Linked DNA regions of Homo sapiens: region 2 is linked to region 1. Evidence: fine-mapped expression QTL. A gene starts in region 1. The other region holds a variant in brackets. All regions are shown on one strand. Distances are from middle to middle. Region 1 holds the start of DCLRE1A (DNA cross-link repair 1A). Region 2 has its middle 15 kb from the start of PLEKHS1.

Evidence for each region. PIP is the estimated chance that this variant, and not a neighbour inherited with it, causes the effect. A credible set is the group of variants that fine-mapping cannot tell apart.
Region 2: its variant is the best candidate, but not a certain one, in a credible set for the expression of DCLRE1A in lung (TOPMed, PIP 0.70).

Annotation. Positions count from the first base shown.
Region 1 is chr10:113,852,026-113,856,417 of GRCh38, forward strand. DCLRE1A (DNA cross-link repair 1A) reads right to left here and starts at 2,057. Exons shown (of 9, transcript NM_014881.5): 1 at 698-2,057. The coding sequence starts at 1,157. It overlaps NHLRC2 (NHL repeat containing 2), which reads left to right and starts at 2,636. Exons shown (of 11, transcript NM_198514.4): 1 at 2,636-3,025. The coding sequence starts at 2,848. RefSeq lists a silencer at 2,746-3,105 and an enhancer at 3,116-3,820.
Region 2 is chr10:113,734,559-113,738,950 of GRCh38, forward strand. No RefSeq gene overlaps it. Among named protein-coding and RNA genes, the nearest start is that of PLEKHS1, 15 kb to the right of the region's middle. The variant T/C (reference allele first, on the strand shown) is at 2,549.

The sequences.
Region 1 (4,392 bases):
TATGGAGTTCCATAATAACCACCAACTGGGGCCGGGCGCGGTGGTTCATGCCTGTAATACCAGCACTTTGGGAGGCCGAGGCGGGCAGATCACGAGGTCAGGAGATCGAGACCATCCTGGCTAACACGGCGAAACCCCGTCTCTACTAAAAATACAAAAAATTAGCCGGGTGCGGTGGCGGGCGCCTGTAGTCCCGGCTACTCGGGAAGCTGAGGCAGGAGAATGGCATGAACCTAGGAAGCGGAGCTTGCAGTGAGCCAAGATAGCGCCACTGCACTCCAATCTGGGCAACAGAGAGAGACTCCGTCTCAAAAAAATAAATAACCAATTGGACAAGTTATCTGACTTTTAAGAACTTTCATCTATAAAATGTCAATACTAGCTACCTTATATGGTGATTGTGAAAGTTGGGTAAGTAGACAGTGTGAAAGTACCCAGCATAGTAAGGATTCAGTTAACATTTATGGAAAATAATCCAGATACTTAGGAACTTTTATGAAATAACACAATGTATTTAAACTGTTTTCTAGTCTGCCATTTGCTTTACAATTATACCGTTGACTGGTATGGTGTTTCCCAGTGTCTCATCTCTCTTTTAGGTTACTGCTTGCCTTCCTTGTTTCACTGAATTGGTATGTCTGACCTAATGAAGACTTTTTAGATTATTTAGAAACTACTACGTTTTCTGCAGTCTTACCTGTTTCAGAGCGTGGTGGAGAATCCAAACATTCAAAAACATGCCATCGAGGTGTCTGCCCTATCAATGAGGAAAAAGGCATCTGGCAATTTGGACAGTATCCATCATAAACTGGACGTATCTTTGGGGACACGTGTTGGCTTTTTTGAGTTCTACAGAGTTTTCCTGGAGTAGTTTCCTTGTCTTGGGTCTGCTGAATACCATCTCCACAACTTGAATTCTGACTAGAAGCAACAGAAGTCTGACAACCTGCATTTCCAAGGGGCACTTCATGGTCCTTCACCTCTTTAGCTTCTGCGGCTCTTTTTCTGTTTCTACTCCGTTTTGACTGGTATTTTCCATCTGTTGCTTTTTCAACAGATTTTAGAATATTTTTAGAGCCATTATTTGGATCAACTCGTTTTGGTTTTCTTTTAGATTTGTATTCCCAAATGTCTTCTTCGGAAATGTCTTCTAACATGGCAAAATGATTTTATCATTCAAGAAGTATTAATCTTAAGTAAACTGAAAGTCCATTTCTTGTCACAAACAAAAAGTTATAGAATTATTTTGCTGAGAAAAAAAACAAAGGTAACAAAACCCCCACCAACTCAATGGGAATCTGCAGTGTTGGTAATGAACATATTGGCAAGCTACAAACCTTGTACCTGACAACACCTGCTATTCCATTTATACCACAATGAAACTAAGATAAACCTATCACAGGAGTAGCAACTGTGAAGTTCTCCATTATGGGTGCTATTTCATTCAAATATCTTGTCCTTTTCCAGGGCTTGATTCATAAAAATAATACTTCAAAAATTAAGCGCTAATGGCAAATATAGGTTCAACAGCTTAATCTTAGAACGAGATTTGTAACATTGTTATGAAGCTACTGTCAGTTCTTTCAAGTGGACAACCGTCCAAATAATTCATAAATCCAACCACAGTCCCTGGACAAAGGGCTTAACAGGTATCCCAAACACTAAATGACTATCTAACAAAACTAGTCACAACATAATCAAAGAGATGTGTAATTCGCAAAAAACTGCGAAGTCACTGCCCTCATCCACGACTAGTGGATACTCAACCACTTCAGTTTCCCGCGACAGTCCATGATCTTCCTCCAGCAGCAATGAACAATCCCTGCACAGTGAACAAAAAAAGTTGATATGTGAAAAAAGTTCAAATATGTGAAAGAGTGGGCTTGTATTGAGGTCTGACTCCGTATTGCACCCATGGTTCCGAAGGTGGCCAGCCCTCTGTCCACCTGACTCAAAACGGGGTCACACGCCAGCCTCTCCCTTATCTTTTGGCATTAGAGGCTGGGAGGCCAGGAAGCGGGGCCTTAATCATCTCCAGGTTAAGCATAGCGAGCTCCAAAAAGCCCTCAGAGTCCTGCCCTTCTGAAGACTCTAAGGCCCGCCCTCAAGGACCCTCACCGCCCCCCACCTGCCACTCGGCACCCCAAGGGAGCCGCTCCAGCTGCATCCGCTCCTCCCGGCACCCCCATCTAAAAATGTGTTCGCGCCCGCACTTTCAGCACTCCCAGATGACAAAACGCTGTGTTTGTGTATAAGTGAAAGCCACTCGCGCCAGTCACTTCCAGTTTACAAAGCCTTCTCTCTGGAGGTTATCCCTACCCGCTTTACCTTTAGGGTCTTGGCGGGAACAAGTTCCCGCTGCCAGTGCCGTGTCGAATCGGCGGATGCTGTTCAAAGAGAGAGACTTTAAAAATAATTTTTAAAAATACATTGCCCTTTTAAGTCCTACGGATTTATTGTATTTTATTTGTGTTCGAAAGTCCGCTAATTCCCAATGTGGAGGGTTGGGGATGTTTCCCTTAGCGCCTCTGGGACGCTGTCCCTAAGGCCTTATTCCATGTTGAATCTGACGCTCTCAATGTCCAGGCTCGGCTGCGGCGTGGGGACCGAAAAGGGGCGGGGTGGGTCGGACGGCAGTTTAATTACGTCCCCGGGAACTGCGCCGATTTGGACTTTTGGCACTTGGACCTATGCTTTAAAAAGAAAAAAGTGTCATTGGCGTGGAGTGGGGCTAGTGGAGGGTGAGGTGAATGCGCCGTTTGGAAACCACAGGACAGTGAACGTTTCGTCTCTCCCAGCGAGACTCTCCCGCGGGCCCGGCGGCCGCATCGGGAGCCCGGCGGAAACATGGCGGCGCCCGGAGGCCGGGGCCGCAGCCTCTCCGGCCTGCTCCCCGCGCAGACCTCGCTAGAGTACGCCCTGCTCGACGCCGTTACCCAGCAGGAGAAGGACAGCCTGGTCTACCAGTATCTGCAGAAGGTGGACGGCTGGGAGCAGGACTTGTCAGTACCCGAGTTTCCGGAAGGTGAGGGGCTGGCGTCGGGGTGGGGGCCCCTCCCGGCACCTCCCCTTCCTCGGGGACGGCGCCCTCCCGCGAAGCGGTGGGCTAGGCGGGTTTGTGCCGCTGGCGCCCCGGGGAGTGGCCCTTCGCCTAACTTGGGCCGCTGTTCGCGTGTTCTGCAATTCCCAGGGGTCCCCAAGCGGCCACCGACGGGGGTTTCCCTGGCACGGGGATCCACATACTCGTCTGTGTATCCTGAGTTCCGCCCGCGCCTGATATTAGCCAAGTGGACACTCCGTGAATATTTAGTGTCCCCGGTGGCAATGATTGCAACGTCCACACCATTCTGTCCATTCAATCTGGTTCCCCAGTGTCTTCTGGTCATCTTTCTGCATCATCTTGACATTTATTGATCACTTTTTCATGTATCACACACAGGGTTTTTTTTTGTTTTTTTTTGATACGGAGTCTCGCTCTGTCTCCCAGGCTGGAGTACAGTGGCGTGATCTTGGCTCACTGCAACCTCCGCCTCCCAGGTTCAGGCGATTCACCTGCCTCAGCCTCCGGAGTAGCTGGGACTACAGGCCCGCGCCACCACGCCTGGCTAGTTGTTTTGTTTTGTTTTGTTTTGTTTTGTTTTGTTTGTATTTTTAGTAGAGACGGCGTTTCACTATGTTGGCCAGGCTGGTCTCGACCTCCTGATTTCAAGTGATCCTCCCGCCTCCGTTTCCCAAAGTGCTGGGATTACAGGCGTGAGCCACCGCGCCCGGCCTGCCACACACAGTCCTAAACACTTGAGGGGATACCTAAACACTTGAGGAGATATTACCTTATTCAATTACCTCTATATCCCAGTGAGGTGCTCCTATCATTCCCCTTTCACAGTTGAGGAAATGGAAGCACAGAGAGGTTAAGTCACATGCCCAGGGCCTCACAGCTGATAACTGCCCCAGTTGGATTATACAGGCCCTGGATTTGCTGGTTTCTTAGCTGTACTGTGCTTCTCCGTTCAAAGTCGTGAAACTAATACTTTTAAAAATCGGAATCAATTATAGCCTATTTCCAGGGTTTAAATCCTGGCCATGTGAGCTTTTGGAGCATGAAGGAACAGATATTCCCGGCAGGGATGTTTGTGAAGCATATCTTGCCATGATAAATGAAAACGTATTTTACCTTCTTTGGATGGGAGTAGCATTGCTTTGCCTGATGGTGCTGGCATGTGTCCTGGCGTGACACTGAAACCACATGTATAGTTAATTGGTTGGATGTGGCAGAATTCAGTTATCTCATGGGAGGTATATCGGAACCTGCCTCCGACAACAGAGTATTGGTGTCTTTCCAAGTCTTTTGCACTACTCACCTTGAGAAGTGCTTATTTTTCCTGCTATTAA
Region 2 (4,392 bases), 120 kb before region 1:
AGCCAAAATAACAAGAACAAGGTGTGATCAAAGGAGAGTGAATTTTATTATCCAATGCCAACAAGGGGAAAAGGTCAGAATCCTTTCTGAAAATTGCCACCTTTTCAGTTTCTGGAGAGTGGGCAATGGTTTAAGAATAGAGGCTTGGAATACAGGGAGGGGGAGGGGCTCGGAGGTGCCAGGTGGCATGTTTCACTCCGATGGCTTATCTTAAATTATTGCTCCAACTGGCGAAGGGGCCAGCACCATCTTGGGCCCAACCAGCTTACAAATTAATTGCAGTCAATTGTGCAGTTAATGTCTCGCTGGGAGTGAACTCCGTCCTTGAAGTCATCTCCCGCTAGGGGGAGAGTTCCAGAGATGCCTCGTCCATGTCAGGATTCGGCCCCTGAAGCTTCTAAGGAAATACATGACCAGATAAGTGGGCATGGTGTGAGCTTAACAAGAATCTAGGTAAATAACTGTGCATAGGCATGGGAGCATAAGGTGGAAAAGGAAAGGAAAAAAGTTCTTAAAACAGTTTGAAACTAAGCTGCTCAGTTACAAAGTAATCGACAAGTAGTAGATATCAAAGATGATGGTGATGAATGATGATGATGACGATGACATGAGGCTCATGGAGGGGCAAGAACGGAAGATGCCCCCCTGGATGCCTCACTTGCTCTTTCTGCCTCCAGGTCTCTTCCTTAGTCATGCTTTTCAGTCTATGCTTTCAACCTGAGGTCTCCCAGAAGTGAAGGGATTAGATCAGCGACTGCTTTATTTAGCAAACATTCAGAGTCCTACTAGATGCCAGATGTCATATTAGGGATGGGGCTAGAAAGATGACCAAGAAAGGATGCTTATACCAAAGGAGGTGAACAAATCACTCTAGGGCTTAGTGGCTGTAACACAGTCATGTGTACATTACCCAGGAATACAGAGGGGGTGCATCCTGCCTGGGGATTCCAAGAGAGGTTCCAAAGGAACTGTTTTCATCATCTTCCATTCCAGCCTCCAAAAAAGGCTGAAGGGAAGGTGGTGGAGAGGAAATTAAGGTTAGCAGGTAGAAGATGGCCTGAGAATTCCTGGAAGATCGGTTTAGGAAGGAAATCACTATGTCCCACTGCATCCTCATTGCAAATCAATAGGTCTAGGGTGGAGACCAGGAATCTGCATGTTTAACCAACCTGCCTAGATATTCTGAGGCAGGTGGTCCTCAGACAACATGGATTATTCTGATACCAAAAGACTCCCTTGCAGATCTGCAGGAGTGGCAGCAAAGCCCAAATTAAACAGCTGGAAAAGATCACCCAGGGGCCAGCAGCGCATTGGCTGTTCAAAGACCTGGCTAGCCATCCTATCCCCAGATTGAATAGCAAAGGATTCAGGGCATAAATGAGTTCAGTACTGGAGCATTCTTGTCCAGAAACTTCCAGAGGCTGCACAGGAATGCCAAGCCCTTGTTGGCCAGGCAGGTTTGAGGAAGACTGTGAAGTGTGAGGGAGGGGTGGATCAGCAGACAGCTTTCACTGAATGGGTCCAGGTGCACTGACTTCTCCAGCTGGTGTCAGCAGGCACACGTCTTTCTCTTCCTCTCGATTGCATCACTTAGGCAATCATTTCTAGACAAGATGGGCCACTCATGTATTCCCTCTCCTCCAGTGCCTCATAGGTGCCACAATGCAAAATGCTCCCCTTAACAACATTTTGAGGTTGACATTTTTAAAGGAACTTTTCTCTACAGCACCTTTTGTAATTAACTAGATTAATGTTAAGTAGGGAAGGGAACACAGAATTCTCAAGTGAATGTGGTTTTTAAAAATATATTAGGATATAGGACCCATTCTCAACCGCTTAGGAAAATCAGCTTTTGCAAATTATCTTTTCTGAAGCTTCCAGCTGCCTTAAGTGCTGACAGTTTTTAAGCACTGAGATGAAAGAGACAAATTCTTTTTCTTTTGTGTTACTAATTACAATTTTGCTTGGCATAATGTAGCCTGCTTTCCTCTTGAGACATTTGCCAGCATACATTAATTGCACAAATATTTACAGAGGGCTAAAGCACAGGAGAAGCTTATACCAAAAAAGATACTGAACACTTGGAAAAAAGCCTCTTTGACACATATTTGTGGCCAGCTACCCAGAATCGTATAAACTATTTGCCCCTTAGCCTCAGCAAATGTGTTTAAAGAGCAAGTCCCTGGGTTGACTTAGTGTTGACTTTGCTGGCAATGACTGCTGAAATCTTTCTTCAAGAGCCTTGTGGTGACACTTTTTTTTTCAGGGTTAAAAATAAGGTTTCCAAGAATATGCATGCATCTTATGGGTTGCTATATTGTCAACACTTTTTATCTCTCTAGCCACCCACATGGAATGGAAAAGGTTTATCCAATGATTGTTCCAAACCCCAGGAGTTGCAGAAAGCCAAATTGAGCAAGTCTGGAAAACTTGAATGGCTAAGCCACAAGGTCCTCAATACCATCTTCTTGTTTTCCTAGCATGCTAATTAAGAAAAAAAAGGCCCTGGTGTCAGATAGCCCCAGGTTCAAATCCCAACTTCGGCACT[T/C]CCAAGCTATATGACCTTGAGGAGTCTCTTAATCTCTCCAAACCTTTCTTCTTTCATCCTCAAATAGAATTAGTCCTATGTGAGTACCTAGGAAATAATACCTACCTCCACAGGTCTTGTGCCCACCTCACAGGGATGTTAGGTGGAGCCAGGGAAATAACACACAGAAATGGCTTTGCAAAACTCCCCAAAAATCTAAAATCAAATAAGGAGACATTTCCTTTGTTGGATGTTGTTATGAAAACTAAGACATCAAGCAAAAGTCAAGTAAATGTTGGGTTGTGTTTTTTAAACCAGCTTGATCTTATCAATAATTGAGGCCACAGAAAGGAGATTAGGATGAAGAAAAGAAAAAAGGACATGCAAATGATGCTGACATACAGAAGAGGTTCTTTCTGAGGATAACGGCTACCCATGCAGTGGAGAGGAAGAACGTCTTCCAAAAGCGGATGTAGTCAAGCTGCTGGAGATCATAGGCAGGAAAGAGAAGGGCATAAGACGCTGGCCTGAGCTTTAGAAGAGGACACATTTCATATGTAGAGTTGCCATATGAAATAGAAGATGCCCAGTTAAATTGGAATTTCAGCTAGAACAACCATTTTTTAATATATATATCCCAAAATATTGCACAAAATATACTAAAAACTTATTTGTTATCTAAAATTTCAATTTAAATGGGTGTCCGGTGTGGGTGGGTTTTTTGTTGTTTTTTGTTTTGAGGCAGTCTAGCTCTGCTGCCCAGGCTGAAGCGCTGTGGCACAATCTCGGCTCACTGCAACCTCCACCTCCCGGGTTCAAACGATTCTCCTGCCTCAGCCTGCCCAACTAGCTGAGATTACAGGCGTGCACCACCATGCCTGGCTAGGGTTATTTTTTGTTGTATTTCTTTGTTTTCCTAAGTTTGGCAGCCCTAGCCTAACTCTGTAGACCATTGCTCTAGCTCCATTGCCTCATCTTAACCCTGAATGCCCACCTCACAGTGATGTTGGGAGGAGCCAGGGAAATAACACACAAAAATGGCTTTGCAAACTCCCAAAAAAATCTAAAATCAAGTAAGGAGACATTTCCTTTGGTGGGTGTTCTTATGAAAACTGAGTCATCAAGCAAAAGGCAAGTCTTTGTGAATTTAGGAAGTATGGAAAATTTCAAGGAGTCTATGGAGTTTAGTTTTTGTTTTTTTGTTTTGTTTTGTTTTGTTTTTGTTTTTGTTTTTGTTTTAGATAAAGTAGCCCAGCTCTGTAGCCCAGGCTGGAGTGCAATGGAGTGATTTTGGCTCACTGCAACCTCCACCTTCCGGATTCAAACGATTCTCCTGCCTCAGCCTCCCGAGTAGCTGGGATTACAGGCATGGGCCACCATGCCCGGCTAATTTTTGTAGTTTTAGTAGAGACGGGATTTCACCATGTTGGTCAGGCTGGTCTCGAACTCCTGACCTCAGGCGATCCACCTGCCTTGGCCTCCCAAAGTGCTGAGATTACAGGCATGAGTCACCATGTCCAACTAGTGGAGTTGATTCTTAAGAGGAGTTCTAAAGACTCTAATGAGAGGGACTAGATGTGATGACTGTCAACACTAGCAACACCTTAGAGTCACCTGGAGAGGTTTCCAATCTCAATGCCCAGGCAGCACCCCAGACCAACTAAATCAGGATCTCTCAGGCTGGCACCCGGGAAGCAGTGTTGTTAAACCTTTCCAGGAGATTCCCATTTGCAGCCAATCTTATCACCAGTGGTAGAATAGTCCCAAAAGGGTGAGTTGAACAGTTTAGAAACTTTAGAGTATAAGGAGAGTCCTAAGGGATATCTACACCCTTTATGAGACTGGTTATAAGAGGGGGAAGAGGA